2 linked regions of the Homo sapiens genome follow. The protein of the gene in region 1 interacts with the protein of each later gene in a biochemical or structural test. Each region holds a gene or a part of one and is shown in the gene's direction. Other genes may lie near its edges.

The links.
Region 2: of the proteins of FBLN1 (region 1) and FAM20C, one has a biochemical effect on the other in vitro, tested with the Homo sapiens proteins (one large-scale study listed by IntAct).

The regions. Positions count from the first base shown.
Region 1 is NC_000022.11:45,509,245-45,513,052, forward strand, and holds part of FBLN1 (fibulin-1 isoform D precursor), read left to right. Parts: intron 1-3,808. UniProt on the Homo sapiens protein: Incorporated into fibronectin-containing matrix fibers. May play a role in cell adhesion and migration along protein fibers within the extracellular matrix (ECM).
Region 2 is NC_000007.14:255,025-258,832, forward strand, and holds part of FAM20C (extracellular serine/threonine protein kinase FAM20C precursor), read left to right. Parts: intron 1-824; coding exon 825-1,005; intron 1,006-1,629; coding exon 1,630-1,739; intron 1,740-1,980; coding exon 1,981-2,062; intron 2,063-3,621; coding exon 3,622-3,681; intron 3,682-3,808. UniProt on the Homo sapiens protein: Golgi serine/threonine protein kinase that phosphorylates secretory pathway proteins within Ser-x-Glu/pSer motifs and plays a key role in biomineralization of bones and teeth.

The DNA.
Region 1 (3,808 bases):
TCTGTGCACTGGGCTGATGTAGGAAGTTGCTGCCGGGGCCAGAGCTGCCTGGAGGGAACTGTGGGGAGAATGCTTCTCGCCTTCCCAGAGAGGTACCTTCTGCTCCTTCTCTCTTGCTGCCTCCTCCCGGCTGGTTCACCATCCAAGACCCCTGTCATCTCCATGACAGATGCTGGGAACAGGCTCAGCAGTGGACACAGTCAGGTCTTGTGTTGGGGATGGGGCCAGGAGCCCTAAGAGCAGGCTCCAGTTCGCCCTGCTTCCTCCTGCAGAGGCCAGGTGGTCTTGAAGAGGGGACACGAGTCTGTCCTCATCCTGGAACTGTAAGGGATGCAGGGACATAGGCCAATCTGGCTGGACCCCTGGTGGCTTCCCAGACAACATAGTAAAACTCCGTCTCTACTAAAAATACAAAAAATTAGCCAGGCGTGGTGGTAGGCGCCTGTAATCCCAGCTACTCAGGAGGGGCAGGGTGCAGGTGGGGGTTGGGTGGAGTCGCCCAGTCCTGTTTGGTTGGAACTTTCCATCAGGGTCTCTGTGGTTGACATCTTGTTGCATTTCAGGCTTTTCGGTTCCTTGGTTCTGGACACCACGGAGGCCACTCCAACTCTTTGCTGTAGCTTTAGACAATGCTGTGGGGCAGGTGGGGTGGGGGCATGATCCTTTTGTGTGGTGAGTCCGGGAGGCACACAGGATGAAGCCTCAAGCTCCCATTCACTTTTAAAAACTCCTGACGCCCTCAGCTGCCTCTGAGTTTTTGAGCTTGAGCAGAGGAAATCAAGGAAATTGAGGCTGGCTTCTGATCACATGCCTTTACTTCATCCCCAGCTATTCACGGAGCTTTGCCAACTTAAAATATCCTCATTTGCCCGATGAGGATATTAAAATAAAAAACAGACACCCATTCAACCACCATCTCATATCGTCACCACTTCACAGAGGTAGGGGACATTTTAATGCCCCGGATTTTGGAAGGACGCGGTCTCACAATAAAAGACAGTATTGTAGATGGAATCGGGCCGGCTTTGTAGAGGTCCCTGGATCCTGCTTTGCTTTCACCCTATTTTGTTGCAACCCAGTGGAAATTTTGCCAGAGCAATGCCCTTACACAGGGTGGGATTGGGGAAGCCTGCTCTTAACTGCAGGCCAAATCCTCCATTCAGTTTATAAATGAAAAAACTGAGGCCCGGACTTGCTCCGGGTGGGAAAACTCTCAACCATGAGATCAGAAGCAGACTCCAGGCCTCCCGGTTCCCAGCCCCCAGTCTCCCCTCTGTGACAGTCTGCTTGCTCAGCAACCTGGGAATTAAGATCCTCGTGGCTCACAGGCTGCTGGGGATGGGATCAGGCATTGCCCAAAGCTTCTGCGATGTTTACAGCTAGCAGGCTGACATTCTGGAAGCTTCCACCCAAGGAGTGGTACAGAATCTCTCTGAGCATCTGTAGTCTTAGAAAGAGCACGTGGCCATATCCTTCCTGGGTGTCCAGGGCATGGTCCCCGCAGGCCATGTGACCTGTGTTTCTCTGCATGCCTTGGAACATGGGGCATGCCGCTGATCTACACCATAATCTTTATGGAGGTTTAACTCACCTGGAAAAAATTTAGTTTTAGCAGCTGTCCCAGGCAACAAACGGTATCTGAGGCCTGTGAACTGAGCCAGCTCCATCCATCTGCACCAGTTACTCCGGCAGGCATGTGTCTCTCCTGAAGAGAGGTGGTGGATGTGGTGGCGTGTTGGCCATCGGGCACCGTGTCAGCCTGGAGGAGTGTGTGGTTCCTTTGAAAAAGAATGTTCTCCCAATCCTGGTGTGATAACTTTTCCTTTTGTTTAATTTTGAAGCTTCTGTTTTTTCCTGTGGTCAGTGTGCTAATGTAAGCACTTTTCCTGGATTATCTCATCAATCTTCCCCCATTTTTTTTTTTTTTGAGACAGAGTTTCGCTCTTGTTGCCCAGGCTAGAGTGCAATGGCATGATCTCAGCTCACTGCAACCTCTGCCTCCTGGGTTCAAGTGATTCTCCTGCCTCAGCCTCCCGAGTAGCTGGGATTACAGGCATACGTCACCATGCCTGGTTAATTTTGTATTTTTAGTAGAGACGGGCTTTCTCCATGTTGGTCAGGCTGGTCTCAAACTCCCAACCTCAGGTGATCCACCTGCCTCGGCCTCTCAAAGTGCTGGGATTACAGGCATGAGCCACCATGCCTGGCTTTTTTTTTTTTTTTAGACAGTCTCACTCTGTCACCCAGGATGGAGTACAGTGGCACGATCTTGGCTCACTGCAACCTCTGCCTCCCGGGTTCAAGTGATTCTCTCACCTCAGCCTCCTGAGTAGCTGGGATTTCAGGTGCCCGCCACCATGCCCAGCTAATTTTTGTATTTTTAGTGGAGACTGGGTTTTACCATGTTGGCCAGGCTGGTCTCGAACTCCTGGACTGAAGTGATGTCTGCCCACTTCAGCCTCCCAAAGTGCTGAGATTACACCCATGAGCCACTGCTCCCGGCCTCTTCCCCCATTTTTACAGATGAAGGAAGTGAGCCTCCTTGAGTCTTAGTAAGGGAGGGAGCTGGATTCAAGGCTGAGCAGTTTTAACCCGCAGCGTTGCCTTCCCTGGGAACATTCGAGTTGAAGGTTAACGAGATTTTGCAAGAGTTTGCTCTTGGTTTATATCTAATATTATGCTTTGGATCTAACTCACATGGTCAGATGCAGGGGTCAGATTGAGACTGGTTGATTGAAACTCCTCCGAAACAACAGGAAATGATCTGGGAGAGAAGATTCCAGGTCCCCTGAGGCCCTGCTTCTCTCTTGATCCCCCACAGCCCAGTGTCGAGTTACCAGCGAGTGCCTGTTCTGCTTGGGTGGGTGTCCAGTGTGGTACTGGTCAGAGGTAATTTTTGGATCTCAGAGCTGCTCACAGCTGTTGGCGGTCTGGGATGGAAGAAGCAGGCGTGGCTTCGGTTGGCCCACATTATCCTCCTGACTCACAGTGTTCCAGGGCTGCTCAGCTGCCCTAGGGTTTGTGTACAAATGGCCTTGATTTGACACCCTTCTGAAGGTGGGGGGCCTGACTGATCAGGCAGTTGGTTGGATGCTGTTGACCCCCGCAGAACTCTTGGTACCTATGAGGCGTGGAGTTGGCGTGGGGGATCTGTTAGCCCCAGTCCCCTTTTTGCCCCCACCCCAGCCTGGCCGAGAGTCCTGGGCAGGCACTGAGAAGGCAACACATGGGGTAGGACTTGATGAGCAGGTGGATAGGACAGTGAGGTGGGAGGTGCCTCTGTGGGCCTCAGATGGTCCCCAGCCTGTGTGATGGGGCAGCGAAGCTCAGGACACCTGGTGTTTGGATATCCACAGGTGACCGGATCCCCAGGCAAATGAGCAGCTGGAAGTCCCTGCAGGGATGCGGGAGGCACAGCCAGGGTGGGGCTGGACCCCAGGCCCTTCCCCACTCCCATCGCCCCACCCTCACAGGACACACGGGGGAGCTGTGATCCTCAGGGTGTTCTTTTGTTTTTAGTTTTTTTGTTTTGAGACAGGGTCTCCCCCTGTCCCCCAGGCTGGAGTGTAGTGGTGCAGTCGTGGCCCACTGCAAGCTTGAACTCCTGGGCTCAAGCGATCCTCCCACCTCTGCCTTCCAAAGTGCTAGGATCATAGGCTTGAGCCACCATGCCTGGCCTTTTTGTTGTTGTTGTTCTTTTGTTGTTGTTAAGTCATCTTTATTTTGGTTGCAAAGTTGCAATCTATTTTTTACTGAACATTTTAAGTCTCATTTGAAGTTTCATAGCTTGCCGTGTAAACCATTGCAT
Region 2 (3,808 bases), on another chromosome or scaffold:
CGGCTGTGGTGAGCGGTGCTGCTGTGAGCATTCGTGTCTGAGTTTTTGTATAGAAATGTTTTCTCTTCTCTTAGGGGTTTACATGGGAGGGGAGTTCCTGGGTCACGTGGAAACACTGTGTTTAATCAGTTGGGGGCTGCAGACCGTTTCCGCCGTGGCTGTGCCGTGTGCACCCCCCGCCAGCAGCGCACAGAGGTGGCGGTTCCCCCGTCCCAGCCGGCAGCTGCTCTTTTGATGGAAGCCATCCCAGCAGACAGGAGATGGTGCCTCACCGTGGCTTTGATTTGCATCTCCCCGGTGACTCACGATGGCGCCCGTCTCTTCTCATGCTTGTCGGCCATCAGGGTCGTCTTTGGAGAATCAGCTGTTCAAGCCCTCTGCCCATTTATTAGTTTTTTTTGTCTTTTTGTGATTGAGTGATGAGAGTTCTTCATACACTCTAAATGCTAGATCCTCAGATGTGCGGTTTGCAAACGTTTTCTACCATTCTGTGGATTGTATCTTCACTTTCTTGACAATATGAATGCATTTTTTAAAAGACTAAATGTTGGCCCTAGGGTTTCCATAGACCAGCCCCTGATTTTCGAGGGTTCAGGCCGGGCTCTGCCTCTGGGGAGCTGTGTGGCCTCGGGACGTCAGCTCTGTGGGTTCATTTTTCTGTACCGTGGGGTGGAGGTGTTTGCTGGGATTGATGGGGAACTGTGGGTGAGTCCTGCCCATGAGAAGCACCAGGCAGAGCCCGGCCCGGCCTTGGGGGCCGTGAGACCACAGGTGAGGACGCAGCCCTGTGCGGCCCTGGTAACCCGCAGCCTGTCCCTCCCCAGCCAACAACATCTGCTTCTACGGCGAGTGTTCCTACTACTGCTCCACGGAGCACGCCCTGTGCGGGAAGCCAGACCAGATCGAGGGCTCGCTGGCGGCCTTCCTGCCCGACCTGTCCCTGGCCAAGAGGAAGACCTGGCGGAACCCTTGGCGGCGTTCCTACCACAAGCGCAAGAAGGCCGAGTGAGTGCGGGGCCGGGGGGCTGGCGTCCGGCCACCCTACGGCAGAGGGAGCTGGGCCTGGGCGGGCATGGGAGGGTCGGCGCCCACGGGGGTGGCAGAGATGGGTGCAGAGCCTGCTGTGCGATGCTGGCCTGTGTGAGATGACCGCTTCCTGATGAGACGGTGGCAGAGGGCGTCCTTACTCCAGTATTTCCATGTGCTTCCCTGACCCGGGCCGGCCTGCCCACCAGGTCCCTCGAATCGGGGCCTCTCAGCGTTTGAGCTCTGCTCTCGCCCCGTCCCTCTCCTCACTCCTGCGGGAGAAACGGCCCCTGTTCTTTCCGCCCCACGTTGTCCTCGTGAGTGTGTAGTCCAGGTCCTGTTTCCCCACAGAGACTCTGCAAAAAACACGGGGCCCAGAGGTGAAGGCAGCTCCAGGTGGGGTCACCCCGAGGCAGGGCAGAGCGGCTCCGTCCCCTCCCACACCCGTGCTCCCGCTAATGCAGCCTCAGCGCCGCAGCCCGGGCGGGTCCATCTGCAGACGCCAAGGTCCCTGCCGCAGTGTTTCTCTTCTGCTCCTCATGGCACGCGCCGGGCTCCCCAGAATCTGGCCTGGGCCCCCCGTCTCACGCTGGCTCCCCGCAGGTGGGAGGTGGACCCTGACTACTGCGAGGAGGTGAAGCAGACACCGCCCTACGACAGCAGCCACCGCATCCTGGACGTCATGGACATGACGATCTTCGACTTCCTCATGGGTACGTCCCGCAGGGGCACGGGGTCCCCGTGTCACTCGCCTTGCGTGGAGCGGATGCACGCAGGGCTCTGCAGGGCACACTCCGTGGCACGGCCCGGCTGCGGTCCTGTGGCCTGTGAAGGGGCCAGATTGCTTAGAGGTCACGCTGGCAGGAGGAGACGCCGCTCTGCAGAGCACAGAGGCCTCTGAGCTACGTGGCCCGGCTCCCCACGAGCTGTGACACTTTCTGCCTCTCTCCGCAGGAAACATGGACCGTCACCACTACGAGACTTTTGAGAAGTTTGGGAATGAAACGTTCATCATCCACTTAGACAATGGAAGAGGGTGAGCCTGTCCTCGCCCCTGCACACCCAGGGAAGGGCCGGCCACCTCCCAGCTACCTGCAGCCCACCTGAGACCCTGGGGACGGGGGGAGCAGACCCTCCAGTGGAGGGATGGGAATGTCGCAAAGGCCCATCTCAGAGCCAGATGCAGAGGGCGGCCCCAGGCCCCAACCAGGAGGGAGGGCCGCCCCGGGAGTGGGACCTCCGAGGCACAGGAATGCTGCAGACCAAGTCCCGGCAGAGCTGGTGTTACCTGGGAAACGGAGGCCAGGAGAGGCTGCTGGTAGGAAGAGCAGGACCGTGCAGAATAGATGGGCCTCTGCCTGCACGCGGTACCTGGAGCCAGCCAGCGGGGGATAGGCGGCCTCTGCGGCCGCTGCTGGCCTGCCACGGGGGGTCTTGGGCGGCGCTGTGAGACCCTGGTTACCAGGGAGGGTGACCCCTAATAAGCAAAGCATGGAGGCGAGTAACTCGGGCAGGAGGACGTCCATTCCCAGGCTCGGAGGCCTCAGAGAGATGGACTTTGGGCACTTCAATAGCTAAACTGTGGGCTGACGCTCCCTGGAGCCATCTCAACTCGGCTGCCCAGGACCCTTCCCCAGGCCAGAGGCCAGGACCCCACATACAGGGCTGGGGACAGGCGGGGTGGACCCACTGCCTGGGGTGCTGGAGATGGGCAGGGTGGACCCACTGCCCGGGGTGCTGGAGATGGGCTGGGTGGACCCACTGCCCGGGGTGCTGGAGATGGGCAGGGTGGACCCACTGCCTGGGGTGCTGGAGATGGGGCTGGGTGGACCCACTGCCCAGGATGCTGGAGATGGGCTGGGTGGACACACTGCCTGGGGTGCTGGAGATGCCCGGGGTGGACCCACTGCCTGAGGTGCTGGAGATAGGCAGTGTGGACCCACTGCCTGGGGTGCTGGAGATGGGGCTGGGTGGACCCACTGCCCGGGTGCTGGAGATAGGCAGTGTGGACCCACTGCCTGGGGTGCTGGAGATGGGGCTGGGTGGACCCACTGCCCGGGGTGTTGGAGATAGGCGGGGTGGACCCACTGACTGGGGTGCTGGAGATAGGCAGGGTGGACCCACTGCCTGAGGTGCTGGAGATAGGCAGGGTGGACCCACTGACTGGGGTGCTGGAGATGGGTGGGGTGGACCCACTGCCTGAGGTGCTGGAGATAGGCAGGGTGGACCCACTGCCTGGGGTGCTGGAGATGGGTGGGATGGACCCACTGCCCGGGGTGCTGGAGATGGGCAGGGTGGACCCACTGCCTGAGGTGCTGGAGATGGGCAGGGTGGACCCACTGCCCGGGATGCTGGAGATGGGTGGGGTGGACCCACTGCCTGGGGTGCTGGAGATGGGTGGGATGGACCCACTGCCTGGGGTGCTGGAGATGGGTGGGATGGACCCACTGCCCGGGGTGCTGGAGATGGGCTGGGTGGACCCACTGCCTGGGGTGTCGGGTACAGGCAGGTGGACCCATGGCCCAGCTCCCAGCCCAGCAGCCTGTTAGGAACCTTGTACAGGGGCCCTTGACAATTCTGCTTTTCTTCTGGAAGGTTTGGGAAGTATTCGCACGACGAGCTCTCCATCCTGGTGCCGCTACAGCAGTGCTGCAGGTACAGCCCCTGCCGGAGCCGGCTCCAGCTCCACCCTCCTCCCTACTGCGCAGGAGACAGAGGAGGCCACAGCCTTCCCCACCCCACCCCGGCCATCACATGGGAGAGAAAAGGCCCCGAATTCAAC